Regions from separate parts of the Homo sapiens genome. Here region 2 is linked to region 1. The links come from fine-mapping of genetic effects on gene expression. Tissue or cell type: whole blood. Region 1 holds a variant in brackets; the other region holds the start of a gene. All regions are shown on one strand. Distances are from middle to middle.

Region 1 (8,724 bases):
TGACACTTTTCGGTAAAAGCTCAATTTCATTTGGGCCTTCCTTGGTTCCATTATTATTATTATTATTATTATTTGAGATGGGGCCTTGCTCTGTCACCCAGGCTGAAAGTGCAGTGGCGTGATCATGGCTCACTGTGGCTTTCACCTTTAGCCTCCAGAGTAGCTGGAACCATAGGTGCGTGCCACCACATCCAGCTAATTTACTTATTTATTTATATATATTTTTTGGTACAGATGAGGTCTCACTATGTTGCCCAGGTTGGTCTCAAATTCCTGGGCTCAAGCCAACCTTTCACTTTTGCCTCCCAAAGTGCTGGGATTACGGGTGTGAGCCACCATGCCTGGCTGGTTCCATTATTCATTTCTAGAGATGAAACAAGCAGAATGGGGTAGAATATTTAGATGGGGATATATCATAGTTTGTTGAAAGGAAGGACAGTGTTTTCAATTTAATTTTCCTTTAATTTTTGGCAATGCCCAATCTTCTATTGGCATATTGGCTGTAACCATTGAGGATTATTATTTTAGAGGAGTAGTTAATAATGACTTATCATTATCCTCTAAATACATTTTAAATGAAAGTACCTTGCTTTTGTTCGTGCTGAAACTCATGTGACACATTTTTCTCAACCTCCCTGTCTTATAATAACTTCCTCTGATTTATCCTCATGCATTTGGGTTTTCATCTCAAAGAAGAGCTGAGTGTCATCTACATTCCACTTTCTGCCTTCAAGTCTCATTTTCTTCATCTGTAAAATAGGATAATAATACATTACTCATAATTACTCATAGGATCGTTGGGAAGATTAAGCAATAAATCCATGTAAAATGCCTAGCATAATGTCTGATGTATAGTGGCATTCAAGAAATGTAAATTACATTTCTCTCTGTTATTGGGTCCTTTGATGATTGAATATGCCCACTGTTTTCTATTTTCTTTTTCTTTTGTTTTGTTGTTAGAACAAGATAAAACTCCTTGATAAACTGCAGACATATTCAACGGTTATTAGCGCTAACCATATGGGCATCAACATTCAGAATTAGAACAATGTAATAATATTGACCTAGTATTCAGTTAGCAATATTGACATACAGAAGATTGAGACCACCCTGGCTAACACGGTGAAACCCTGTCTCTACTAAAAATACAAAAAATTAGCCGGGCATGGTGGCGGGCACCTGTAGTCCCAGCTACTTGGGAGGCTGAGGCAGGAGAATGGTGTGAACCCCAGAGGCGGAGCTTGCAGTGAGCCGAGATTGTGCCACTGCACTCCAGCCTGGGCCACAGAGTGAGACTCCTTCTCAAAACAAATTAAATAAATAAACAAATAATAATAATAATGTTGACCTAATATTAGGTTGACCTATTAGTTTCAGATAAAGTTAGAGTTAGGTCAATATACATTACAACTAAGTTTAGGAATTAATCAATACGTAACTTCTCAGGATCTTCTCTCTTCAACTTTAGACAGGTTTTGATTAAATTAGTCAACAGAAAACTTTAAATATATTGAAATTTAGAAGTACATAAAAACTTGTAAATAAGCAACATTAGTTATGTTTAAAATAATCCTTTTGTCCAGGCACTGTGGCTTAGACTTGTAATCCCAGTACTTTGGGAAGCTGAGGTCAGTGGATCACTTAAGGCCAGGAATTCAAGACCAGCCTGGCCAACATGGTGAAACCCCAACTCTACTAAAAATACAAAAATTAGCTGGTTGTGATGGCGCACACCTGTAATCCCAGCTACTTGGGAGGCTAGGGCATGAGAATCACTTGAACCCGGGAGGTGGAGGTTGCAGTGAGCCAAGGTCTCGACACTGCACTCTAGCCTGGGTGACAGAGCAAGACTCTGTCTCAAAAATAAATAAATAAATACATAATAATAATCCTTTTATCCTTTTGTATAATCCATGTGCTATCCCCTGCTTTTTTTTCTTTTTTTCAAGCTTGTGGGAAGTGGTATGATTATGGACAGGCTATCAAACTTCTAAAAATGAGTTTTCAAACAACCTTTGTAGCTGGAATTAGATAGTTTGGTACCGATCATGCCTTGGCTACTATTAAAATTTCTAAAAGGGGCCAGCCTCAGTGGTTCACACCTGTAAGCCCAGCACTTTGAGTGGCCAAAGCAGGCAGATCATTTGACGTCAGGCGTTCAAGAACAGCCTGGCCAACATGGTGAAACCTTGTCTTTACCAAAAATATTAAATAACTTTTAAAATTGCAAAAACCACAGTTACTTTTGCATCAACCTATACAAAAACTAGCCAGGCATGGTGACACGTGCCTGTAGTCCCAGCTACTTGGGAGGCTGAGGCAGGAGAATCTCTCGAACGCAGGAGGTGGAAGTTGCAGTGAGCCAAGATCACGCCACTGCACTCCATCCTGGGCAACAGAGTGAGACCCTGTCTCAAATAATAATAATAATTGTTATCATCATCATCATCTAAAATGTTATAATCCCTAAAGATCTCCACATCTGATTCTCATATTTTGTAAGTTGCATCTGCACTGCCAGTAAGGTTTTGCTTTCAAATTGTTTAGTTTTGTTTTTGAGTCTTCAGACTTTAAAAAAATTAAACAAGTTATACTACACTGTGTTTGAAAAGAAAAAGAATATAAATGAAAAGGGAAGCCATAAATATCAGTCAACAGACATAGTTGAGAAATTTGGGGAACTCTAGGTCTATACAACTTTCCTAGATTGAACCCTGTAGTCTCAATTGATTTCAATGAGAATTTTTTGTCAAGTGAGGGATGATAATTTTTATATAGATCTCATTCTTACTTTTCCAAGTTTTCACTTTAATTCTGTAGTGGACTCAGTGTGGGTAATAGGCATATTAGATTCCACAAAATTGTGAAAGTTATTGGTCTGGATTTTATTTTAGAGTGCCAACTGTTGTGGTATTCACTTCTGTTTGAATCAACTATAGCGTATAATGTCAAAACAATACATTGGAACCAATAGCTCCCAGGGTAAAAATTATCCGTGTACAGATGGTGGGCAAGAGTGATTACTTAAATTCTAGATATATAAATACCATAAGTACATATTCAGAGTTATGAATGGAGTAAGGATTCCCACAGTATTAATCTAACTTCAACAAGCCACGCAAATAGAGTGAAACACAATCTGTTCTATACATTTTGCACACTCTCAATTGCTGTAACATGAGAAATGGTATTTTAAGGGTAGAAACCCTCAACTGCTTTGAGACCACAAAAGTCCATCAGTTTACAGCTGGAGGCTTCTATCTATTCAGAATGTTTGGTACTCTTACAAACAGTAGCCCCACCGTTAAAATTAATAGATTTTGTATCCTAGGGGGCAAAGTTCTTTAAAGTCATGACATGACTTTTGCTTTGGCCTTGATTTTCCTTTTATTTCTAAGGAGTTTCTGTAAAAGGATTCCTTTGTTAACATATACCATTTTCGTTATAATATAACATTAGTTTTTCCTCTGTATTTTCACAAAAGCAAAAAAAAAATTGTACAAGCCAATACTTATCCCTAAAATATATTTTTCTGATTACAAAGTATTGATGTTATTTCTGAAAAAATATAAAAAGTATAAAACAAAAAATAAAAATTACTCATAATACACATAGAGAATAACATTTTGGTGTCCATATTCCCATATAAAACACAGTCATATGTTGCTTAACGACAGGGTACAGTCTGAAAAAAGCATTGTTTGGTGATTTTGTCCTTGTGTGAACATCATAGAGTGCACTTACACAAACCTACATGGTAGAGCCTACTACACACTTAGGCTATATGGTATAGCCTATTGCTATACCATAGCACCATATAGGACTATGAATTGTCCTATAACTAAATATGGTACTAAGAACATAGAAGACAATAAATGCTTCAATTTATGATAATTAGGCATTGAGCAAAACTCTGATTTTCTATACCAGTTCTTCACAAGATGCCTATTAAATTGAGTTGAAACATTGATGGGATTGGTGTCTGCAAGAAATATTCTGGAAATACTAAATTTTATAATTTAATGTTAATAGGCTTTTAGTGTTGAGAGTAATGTATTTCTTGCTAAGTCATCAATAAACATCTAATTTAAAATACAATAAAAATAATTTATAAAATAGGTCATTACACTTATACAAGCTTGTTGAACAAAGGCTAGTAATATAATTTTTTAAGTACCATGAAAAGAGATCATACTGGTTCTGTGTGGTGGCTCATACTTGTAATCCCAGCACTTCGGGAGGCCGAGATGGGAAGATTGCTTGAGCTCAGGAGTTCAAGATCGGCCTGGGCAACATAGCAAGACCCCATCTTTAAAAAAATACAAAAAAATAGCTAGGCATGCTGGCACGCACCTGTAGTCCCAGCTACCTGTGGGGCTGAGGTGAGAGGATCGCTTGAACCCTGGAGGCGGAGGCTGCAGTGAGCCATGTTTGAGCCACTGCACTCCAGCCTGGATGACAAAGCAAGAACCTGTCTCAGAAAAAAAAAAGAGAGAGAGACAGTTTGTATCAAGTAGTCCAGAAGAAATAAAGCTGGAGACTAAAGTTTCAGTAGTGCTTTCTAGAACTTTTCAAGACAAGGTTATCTGTATAACTGAATTTGAGTATTTCACCAGGCATGAGAGCCAATCTCATGTGAAACACCGAATAGTCCCAAAGAACGTGAAAGGAATATCGTAATGAGGCAGAATAGGGTCTGGAGGCAAGGAACCTAAGGCTGATTCACCCTGACTTCCTAGAACTAAATCGAAAGAAAAACCCCAACTTTCTGCACCTACGTAACAAAAGGACCAGAAGCTACT[C/T]CCTTTGCAAACCCCAACCTTTTCTACACAGCAGATGGGAAACTGAAACTACCTCTGAGTGGTTACTTTTTGCAACCAATCAGACCTTTCCATAGGAATATAACATTGTAACTTCACTTCAGTGATTATGATTATGAGCCAAGGCTACATTTGCATAGAAGTGCAACTTTATAACTTCACTTTAGCCTCTGATTGTTTGCTTTCCACAACCAACCATATGTTTGCATAGGAGTGTGACCTTTGTAACTTGACTTCAGCCTCTGATTGCTTGCTGTCTGCAAGCAATCAGACTAATTGTGGACCACCACTTCATTTACATGTGGTGAACACCAAGTGGCCAATGGGAAACCTCTAGCGGGTATTTGGACCCAAGAAGGTTCTGTATCCAGAGCCTTTGAGCCGCTGTTGGGAGGGCTTCCACACCGTGGAGTGTATTTTCACTTTCAATAAATCTCTGCTTTCATGGCTTCATTGTTTCCTTGCTTTGCTGTGCGTTTTGCCCAATTCTTCAAAATGCGAAGAACCTGGGCAGCTTGCAGTCAAGAGCCTCTACTGGTAACAGTAACATGGGTTGTTTTTGTTTTGTTTTGTTTTTACAAGAGTAGGACTTTCCTCATACCCTAAGTCTTTGGTCATTAAGACACACAAATAAAACTGCATATCCTGCACTGATCATCAGCCAAGTATATTTACTAATTTCAATTAGAAGAATATAAACACCTTAACTGTCACAGTTAATTAGTATATTTGGAGATGGTGATGGAGAATGTTACGTAGAGAAAAAAAAACCAATTACTTATAGTGCAAATAGAGATTCTTAGAGGAGGGCTAAGGCAGAACTTCAAGATTAGTGTCAGATAAGGGATAAGAAGATAAAGAATAAGGGCCGGGTGCGGGACCTCACGCCTGTAATCCCAGCACTTTGGGAGGCGGAGGCGGGCGGATCACGAGGTCAGGAGATCGAGACCATCCTGGTTAACATGGTGAAACCCTGTCTCTACTAAAAATAAAAAAATAAAAATAAAAAATTAGCCGGGTGTGGTGGCGGGCGCCTGTAGTCCCAGCTACTCCGGAGGCTGAGGCGGGAGAATGGCGTGAACCCGGGAGGCGGAACTTGCAGTGAGCTGAGATCACGCCACTGCACTCCAGCCTGGGCGAGAGAGAGGGACTCTGTCTCAAAAAAAAAAAAGGGTTAATTTCATGCCAGGCACTGTGCATGACAATTGCAATACAAGTTAAATACTATAATAGAAGAAATAACAAAATTCTGTGAGGAGAAAGGAAGCTGTTCAGCCAGTGTGTCTACCTAGCCATTATTCCTTCTAAGCCAGCTGCTGCTATGTTAGTCATTTCACACAATTAGCTTTTGCTCCAATATATTTTTATTCCAACCTGACTCCGCTGGCAGATTCTGGACTCTAGGCTCCTTTACTCTGGCTCCAACCCTCTTCTGGCCTTTTGAACCTGGAGCTTGTCCCGTCTCCCTGCCATTTGATTCTTCTCTTTCTAATACATTGGCTTGGACTAGATTTCTTGAGTTTTGTATCTTCAGGTGCCTTGATAAAAGCGCAGATTCCTTTACTCTGTTTAAACCCTGGCTATAGTCACAGACTCTCTGAAAACCCCACCCGGTGTTCAGACAACTGTCTTCGTCTCACCCTAAGGCAATAGAAAACGAAATTCACGCTGGGCGCAGTGGCTCACGACTGTAATCCCAGCACTTTGGGAGGCCGAGGCGGATGGATCACCTAAGGTCAGGAGTTTGAGACCAGCCTTGCCAACGTGGAGAAACCCCATCTCTTAAAATACAAAATTAGCCGGTGTGGTGGTGGGCACCTGTAATCCCAGTTACTTGGGAGGTTGAGGAATGAGAATCACTTGAACCCAGGAGGCGAGGTTGCGGTGAGCTGAGATCGTGCCATTGCACTCCAGCCTGGGCAACAAGAGTGAAACTCCATCTCAAAAAAAAGAAGAAAAGAAAGAAAGAAAGAAATTCAAATGGCCCTTCACCATATGAAAAGACATTATCATAAGGCAGTTGCAAATTAAGGGTAACTGAAATAACATCCTGCACTTCTCAGATTACGAAAAAACAAAAGCGTAGCAATACACTTTGTTCAAGAGATTGTAGAAATAAATAAACTACTGTTGGAAGTGCAGAATCCACATCCCTTTGGGGGTGATTTAGAAGGCATTTCAATTGCACGTATTCTTCAACCCAGCACTATCACTTCTGGCAATTCATTCTAAAAATATGTTTGCATTTATACAAAATGACAAATTTACAAGGTCATTTATTGAGGCATTGCTTGTATAGCCATGAAGATTGGAAATAGCCCAAATGTCCATCCATAGCAGAATTTTCCAATCTCAGCACTAATTGACATTTTAGACCAGATAATTCTTTGTTATGGGACTGTTCTGTGCATTGTAGCATATTTAGTAGCATCTCTGGCCTCTACCTACTAGATGTGAGCAGCACTTTACTCCCAGACCAAAATGATTGTAGACAATGCCAAATGACCCCAGTCAGGGACAAAACCTCCCAGACTCTCTAATTGAGAACCACTTATATACAGATAACTGGTTAAATAATAATGGTATATTCACAAGTGGAATACTATGCAACTGTAAAAACAATGTGGAGCTTTCAATGTGCTAATATGGAATACTGATTGGATAATAAAAAGAATGGAAACAAGAGAAGAAAGAAAGCTACATTTTCATGATTACAAGGATGTGAGGAGATGGAGAGAGAAGACTGTATCTCCATTATCCATACACTTTTTTTTGTTGTTGTTGTTGAGGGAGTCTCACTCTCTCTGTTGCCCAGGCTGGGGTGCAGTGGCGTGATCTCAGCTCACTGCAACCTCCGCCTCCTGGGTTCAAGTGATTCTCCTGCCTCAGTCTCCCAAGTAGCTGAGATTACAGGTGCCCACGACCATGCCTGGCTAATTTTTTTGTATTTTAGTAGAGACGGGGTTTCACCATGTTGGTCAGGCTGGTCTCTAACTCCTGACCTCAAATGATCCACCCTCCTTGGCCTCCCAAAGTGCTGGGATTACAGGCATGAGCCACAGTGCCCGGCATCCATAATGCTTTTTAAAGTATATTCTAGATAACTTAAATTTTTAGCTGTGTGAAAAGTAAGGCTACAATTTTCATCCAGAATGTTCAAGATAAATAGTGAAGCTATAGAGAGCAAAAAGTAATTTTAAAACAATAATTCTCATACAAACTAAAGTTATTTCCAGAAAGTGTTGGAGGGTTGATTGCATTTGCTTATAACAGGTTCTTGTGCTACTGTGAAGAATTGTTCAGAGATCTGTTCTGGAATCTATTAATAATGAGTTATAGAAGTTATAAAGTTATATCTTTCCAATGCATTTTAATTTCCTTTTGAAAATACTTTATTATTTAAGGTTCTAGGCCAGAAAGGAATCAAGCTGCTGCCCTATGTTGCCAAGGATCTAAAACCATCCTCCAGTTGTGACTCAAATAAGAACTACTTCATAGGAGAAAAAAAATACATCCTGCTGATAACATATATCAGTGACAATGTCACACTAAGTGTCCATCTCTGATTAATCCTGCAGCCGAACCTGAGCTCCATGGAGATCTGTTTATTCCTCTATTCATTCAGCATCATGTTTAAATGCATACTGTGTATGAGGGATAATGTCAGGTACTGAATACAGTCCCAGCCATGAATGACACATTTCTTGCTTTCAAGGAGGAGTGAAGGAATTAGACCTTAAAAACCCTATAAGTACAGAATGTTATGGAAGTACAGAAAAGAAGCACAGAGAAATCAGTTTATGAATCTGCCTTGTTTTACTTTCAATTTTGCTCATAACAATCCTCACGACTATAATGAATGTCTTGTGTTTTCATTGCCAACAAGAATAGTACCCTTCCTACA
Region 2 (7,228 bases), 35 kb before region 1:
GCAGATATAGAACACTGCCATCACTGGAGAAATTTCTACTAGATAGCACTACTCTAACATATAAGAAATATCCACAGGGAAACTTTTACATTCCAATTTAGGATGGTTATACTGGATTTCACAGCAATAAACAAATTTTCCTGAAGAACAGGGAAAACAAAGTACAAAAATATTAACCATCAAAGATCGTTCATGGAAGTGTCGACTAACTAAAACAGCAGTTAAGTTTTACTTTCAGAACCATCAAGCTACAGATGTTGGTCATGGCAACTCCTCAGAGGCAAATTTCTCTGTTAAAATATAGATTAACAATATACTGTCAGTTTCCTCAAGTCAGATGTAAAGATTATGCTGAAAAATGATTAAAGCAAATTATCCTTCAAAGATCCCACAAAAAGGAATATTTATAATCCATGAAATCAAAGAGTTAATGACCCACAGTAAAATACACAGAATGTCTTTCCTAACAGAGCTTTGAGGCAACGGGGATGATTTAAAGAACTATTAAATATAATTGTGTCATCTAGAAAAAAGGCTTAACAAGATGATTTCTGTACAACTAGTTCTAAAACTGTGTATGCATTTCATCCTGATAGTTACACATTTCCGTTAATACCCACTAACATTATAAATGTAGTATCAGGAAGCAGGTGTGTTCTTAATTCAAATATTTAGAACATTTTTAGCACTTTAAAAAACTGCAGGTGAACTAATTTTAAAATGTGAATTCAAATACATTTTTATATTTAGGAATCTGAAAAAACAAGTCATTTTGTATTCCCTCTCAAGTTATAACTAAACTATAGGGCACTTAAAGCCATCAGTCAAAACAACTCCCTTTAAAGCATTTTCAAATCTTAAAAAGGTTATTGTGAATTTAATTACATTTTATCCACATTAACTACTTCTACATACAACTATCTTTGAAATTTACTGACAAAAAAAAAAAAAAAAGGAATTCCCAAGAGAGAATGAAACCATGGAAATTGAAACCAGCTTGTAGGCTAGGTATACAGGAGGGTCACATGGAATCCATCTGAAGGAGAAAGTAACTACTATTACTACCGGAGGTTCTGAAGTCAAATTAAATCAGGTACTATTTACATATTTCTAGCTCTGTACTGACCTCACATGGTGCCTTCCTATGTATTACACACAGGCCTAGCTAGGTTTTCACATTTAAGTTAGTGTTACATGGTTTCTATCTTTAACCAAAGTTAAATGTTTTAAAGAATAGAGTAACATTCCATAAGCCTTTTCCCATTGTTCACAAACCCTTGCTGTTAGTCAGATTACCCCGATAAATCCATCTGTTCCCTCTAATTGCTTCCAAAGAAAAATTCTAGCAACCAAGGACACCAGATTGTAAAACACAGAGTTAGAGTTCTGGCACTACCGAAATATGTTAAGAAATCTTGGCAAATTGGTTAAAATTCCTTGAGCCGTAATTACCTCAGTTGTAAAAATGAATACAATACAAATCTACATCCTAGACGTAGATTATATGAGTTAGGTTTAATTAAACACAAGAAAAGCCTCATATTTTTGGTGAGCTCCAAATATAAGCTACCTAGCTTTCCCCCATCTCACTTTCCCTCCCACCGCTTCCCTTTAAGCTTTCAGGTTGTGCTTCCAACCTCCACTTCAGTGTGTTCCCCTTATCCTTACCAGCACTTACACTCGACCCCCTTTACTCCAATTCCATACAATTCCACCCTCCGATTCCAAGCTGCTACTTCCCTTTGCGCACTGCTAAGGTCCCAGGCAGCCCTCCACTCTGCTCCCCACATTTCCCTCAGCCCCCATTTCCCAACGGCTCCTCCTCTCGGCTCCCCACCCCCTCGTCACCAGGTTCATCCTGCCCCTCCAACCGTCTCCCGCCCCCAGGTTCCTTCCTGCCCTCCAAACACAGCTTCCCCGTCTCAACGTTTCATCTTGTTCCTCCAACAGACTCCCCCAACGACCTCCTCGCTCCTTTAGTCCCTATTTTCTCCCAACACTCAACTGACTACTCCTCTTCATCCATTCTTTTCAATATACACATAAATGCAAAGGCACCCACATACAGGAGCCCCCACCCCCACCTTGGTCCTCCATCTTTCCCTTTTATACTTGCTTCCTTTCTTCCTCCTTCCCCCAACCCCCATCTCCTCCGGAAGAGTCGGTTCCCAGGCCAAGGTCTCTCACCTCATTCGGTCACTTCAGTGGTGCCAACCGCTTCATACAGGAAAAAACAACCAATCCGTCCCCGTGGGCGCTTCCCCTGCGAGTCCGAGCACTTACTGGGCACCCGCCCCACCGGGTACCCGGCACATATGCACGCACAAACCGAGGTCCTTGGAGACAAGGGTTGGGGGTAGAATGAGCGTTCTTACACCGGCCTCAAACACAGCCCACTTCAATACAGCCCCTCGCCATTTTGGTTTCCCGCGGACTGCCGGTGCATTCTGGGAGCGCGGAGCGACTCCGGTGCCGAATGGCAGCTCTCCAAAGCCGCGGGGGGGCAGGGACTGCGCGGCGAGCGCGGAGGAACACCGCGCCCTGCGTCCCCGACTGGGGCTGAACAAAGAAGGACTCTTTAACGTTGCAGTGAGGCTCAGTCCTTCCGCCGCCGGGGCTAACACAATAGTGAAAGCTGCGCTCCTGATCGTCGGCAGGCTGGCACTGTTATACAGGAAAAGGGTCGTGTGCGACCTTCGGTGTGCGTGGTCGTAACGGTGCTCTGTGCATCTTGCTGGGCCGATTTCTTTTCCCTGGAGAAAACCTTAACTGAAGCACGTTTCCTCTACTTTCATCCTAAGGCCTGCTGTTAGAATTTCCTTCAGAGGGGAGAAGACCCAGGATGTCGAGATTAAATTTTATTCAGCGATTCACTGTCCAGTCCCAAACTCCTTATCAGGAGCTGCTTTTATGAAAGACTTTCAGACGATTTTTTTCCTAACGATGAAAGGTTGTTTTCTGTTTACCCGCTTTGCAGTCCTTCCTAGTTGTAATGAAATCTGAGAATAGTCCCCTGCAAAATGGTTTAAGAAAACAGAATTGTTTATTAGTGCAGACCCTTAGCCTGCCCAGATTCTGCTGCCTACAGGGGTCCCAACTGACAAGCTGTGAGATTGTATGCTTGTCTCTTTAACTTACACCTAGATACAACCCAGCTCCTCTTAGTAGCCACGTGTGGAATCTTTATTTATAATTTCGTCAAAATATTTTTAAAGCCATTTTATATTTTTGTCCCATATTATGCCACAGGGATAGTGAACACCATATTTTTTCTGTCTCTGAAAAAGTACCTTTTGTGGTCTAAGCTCATTTGGCTCATACTTCAAAAGGGGTTCCCTCAGCCTGTGATCTCAGAATTTGGCAAATAAGCATATTCGTTTTATCCAATACCATTCAATACTTTAAATATTGTGGTCATACCCTTCCACTCCTCTGCTTCTCCTGAATAATAGTCCTAATCTTTTAAGTCTGTCTTCTTACTGTACCCTCACTGTATCTACTTACCTACTACCTTTCAGGTTTCACTTTATTTCAATTCTCATCATCGTCTCTCATAAATTCGTCTTAAGTGACCTTCATACGTTGGCTGAGGAAAATTTTGACTTAAAAAAAGCAGATGCAGCCGGGCGCGGTGGCTCACACCTGTAATTCCAGCACTTTGGGAGGCCGAGACAGGCAGATCACCTGAGGTCGGGAATTCGAGACCAACCTGATCAACTTGGAGAAACCCCGTCTCTACTAAAAATACAAAAATTAGCCAGGTGTGGTGGCACATGCCTGTAATCCCAGCTACTCGGGAGGCTGAGACAGGAGAATCGCTTGAACCCAGGAGGCAGAGGTTGTGGTGAGCCAAGATCGTGCCATTGCACTCCAGCCTAGGCAACAAGAGCAAAAACTCCATCTCAAAAAAAAAAAAAAAAAAGTAGATGCATTCCCATTCAGGAACGTGGCATTAAGGTAAATAAATAAATAAAATATTAAAAAGTAGATGCAGTACAAAAATTAATAAAGATATTGCACAAACAGATATATTTGCTGTGCAGCTAAGCCTAATCAGAGAACATCTGTTTTGGAGAACGTTTGGTCTAAGTTTTCCTCAACATTTCTGTAAAGTGGTCACCAAGCCTCAACTTCAAAATCTTCAGTGATTCAATACTTCAGACGCATTCATTTCCACCTCAGAAACTCTAATAATTTAGGCTCTTTGGCTACACAAAAGTATTCTAATCCCTTATACATTAGAGAAGTAAATTATGCCTCTATCAAAAAAAAGTGTTATTTTTCTGTGCAAACGTGTGAGTACAAAGGTGTAAGCAAACCAAGTGTTCAGAGATTTAAGGACACTCAGGGAGTCACAGTCAAGTATAAAGAATACCTGTCAGCCAGCCACCAGCAACTCACTCCTGTAATCCCAGTACTTTGAAAGGCCAAGGTAGAAGGATCACTTGAGCTGGGGAGTTCCAGACCAGTATGCAGTCTGAGCCACATAGTGAGACCCTGTCTCTACAAAAAATTTAAAAATTAGCTGGGCCCCTGCCTGTAGTCCCAGCTATTCAGGAGGCTGAGGTGGTAGGCTTACTTGAGCCACAGTGAGACTGCCTCAAAAAAAAAAAAAAAAAAAAAAAAAACCTGCTGTAGTTGTGGTTCCTCGGAAATATAGAGTGAACTCTGATCAGAGTAAACTGTACCCTTTATTGTTGTATGTATTTCTGTGATCATCCTTAGGGTGGTTCATAAGTATTCTGGTTCCCCTCTCTTCCAGACACATAGTAAAATTGCACTCTGGCCGGGCGCGGTGGCCACGCCTGTAATCCCAGCACTTTGGGAGGCTGAGGGGGGCAGATCACTTTAGGCCAGGAATTCCAGACTAGCGTGGCCAACATGGCAAAACTCTGTCTCTACTAAAAATACAAAAATTAGCCGGGCGTGGTGGTGCATGCCTGTAATCCCAGCTATTTGGGAGGCTGAGGCAGAGAATCACTTGAACCCAGGAGGCCGAGATTGCAGTGAGCCAAGATTGCACCGCTGCACTCCAGCCTAGGCGACAGAGGGAGACTCTGTCTCGAAGAAAAAAGAAAAAAAAATTTGCACTTTCTTGCACCCCTGAAGTTAATTGCTTTGACCAATAAAATGGGTGACATGTATCACTTCTCAGGAGAATCTTTAAGAAGCAGAGACACATCTCCCTCCCCCATGCTATGGTAATCATGGAAGCTTGGGTTGAGATAGAATGTCTGTCGCTTTCAGTTCCTAAATGTCTACAATAAGCAGTGACTAGAATTGTGCAATCATCACCACAATCCACGTTTAAAACATTTCCATCACCCCCAAAAAATTCATTATGCGCATTTGCAGTCAACCCTCCTTCCAAGCCCTAGGCAATCTGCTATCTGCTTTCTGACAATTTCATATAAATGGTTTCATACAATAAGTAGTCTTTTGCATCTGGGTTCTTTCACTCAGAATATTTTTTAGGTTCATCTACGTTGTACCAGTCAGTAGTTATTTCTTTTTATTGCCAAATAGACTCCATTTGAATGAATGTACTACATTTTGTTTATCCATTCGCCAGTTGAAGGACATTTATGTTGTTTTCAATCTGGGGCTATTATAAATAAGACTGCTATGAACATTTGTGTACAAATCTTTGTATGGACATTCGTTTTTTATTTTTCTTGAGTAGATCCCTAGAAGTGGAATTACAGAGTTGTATGATAAGTTTATGTTTAACATTTTAAGATACTGCCAAACTGTTTTCCAAAGTGTAAGCAATATGTAAGCCTTCCAGTTTCCCAATATCCTCACTGATACTTGTCTATCTTTCTGATTTCACTCATAACAGTAGGGATTGCTAGGCATGGTGGCTCACACCTGTAATCCTAGCACTTTGGGAGGCCAAGGCTGGAGGATTGCTTGAGCCCAGAAGTTTGAGACCAGCCAGGGCAATACAGTGAAACCTTGTCTCTAAAAAAATAATAATTTTTTTTTTTTTTAGATGGAGTCTCTCTCTGTCACCCAGGCTGGAGTGCAGTGGCACAATCTTGGCTTACTGCAACCTCTGCCTCCTGAGTTCAAGCGATTCTCCTGCCTCAGCCTCCTGAATAGCTGGGATTACAGGCACGTGCCACCACGCCCGGCTAATTTTTGTATTTTTAGTAGAGACTGGGTTTCACCATGTTGGTCAGGCTGGTCTCAAATTCCTGACCTTGTGATCTGCCTGCCTCGGCCTCCCAAAGTGCTGGGATTACAGGCATGAGCCACTGCACCTGGCCAAAAAAAAAAAAAAAATTATTATAATAATTTAAAACAGTGGGAGTGAAGTGGTTCATTGTGGTTTCCCTAATGGCTAGTGCTATTGAGCATCTTTGGTTTGTTAGCCATTCTTATATCTTCTTTAGTGAAGTGCCTACTCAAATATTTTATGTATTTTTTAACTGGACAATCTTCTTATATCAACTTGTAAGAGTTCTTTATATATTCTAGATTTAGGTTCTTTAACAGAAGCATGATTTGCAAATATTGTCTTCCTGTCTATGACTTTATGACTTGTCTTTTCATTTTTCATAATGATGTCTTTTCTTTTTCCCCCAGAAACAAGGTCTCACTCTGTTGCCCAGCCTGGAGTGTAGTGGCACTGATCATAGCCCACCATAACCTCAAACTCCTAGGCTCAAGCAATCCTCCCATATTAGCTTCTCAAGTAGCTGAGACTACAGGTGCACACCACCACTCCCAGCTAATTTTGTTTTAATTCTTTTAGAGATGGGATCTCTATATGTAGCCCAGGCTGGCCTGGAACTCTTGGCCTCAAGCCATCCTCCCACCTCAGCCTCTCAAGTAACTGGGATTACAGGTGCAAGCCACCCTTGCCAGGGCTTAATGTATTTTGAAGGGAAAAAAATTTATTTTAAGTTCAATGAAATCCTATTTATCTTTTTTTAAATACCATATGCTTTTGGTGTTATAACTAAGAATTATTTTACCAAAGTCTATTTTCTATTATGTTTTCTTCAGAAGTTTATAGGTTTAGCTCTTATATGTAAGTCTATGATCCATTTCGAGTTATTTTTTGTGCACAGTGTGAGAGGTATAGGTCTGTATTAATCTTCTTGTGGCTGGGTGTGGTGGCTTCTGCCTGTAATCCCAACACTTTGAGAGGCTGAGGTGGGAGGATTGCTTGAGCCCAGGAGTTTGAGACCACCCTGGGCAACATGGCAAAACCCTGTCG

What was found. PIP is the estimated chance that this variant, and not a neighbour inherited with it, causes the effect.
Region 2: MTF2 starts here. The variant in region 1 is fine-mapped to the expression of MTF2 in whole blood (TOPMed, PIP above 0.99). The same link has a PIP of 0.9 or more in monocytes after R848.

Annotation. Positions count from the first base shown.
Region 1 is chr1:93,038,704-93,047,427 of GRCh38, reverse strand. No RefSeq gene overlaps it. Among named protein-coding and RNA genes, the nearest start is that of MTF2, 36 kb to the left of the region's middle. RefSeq lists an enhancer at 4,676-4,935. The variant C/T (reference allele first, on the strand shown) is at 4,803.
Region 2 is chr1:93,074,491-93,081,718 of GRCh38, reverse strand. It overlaps MTF2 (metal response element binding transcription factor 2), which reads right to left and starts at 2,436. Exons shown (of 15, transcript NM_007358.4): 1 at 2,188-2,436. The coding sequence starts at 2,192. RefSeq lists enhancers at 2,393-2,687, 2,624-2,873.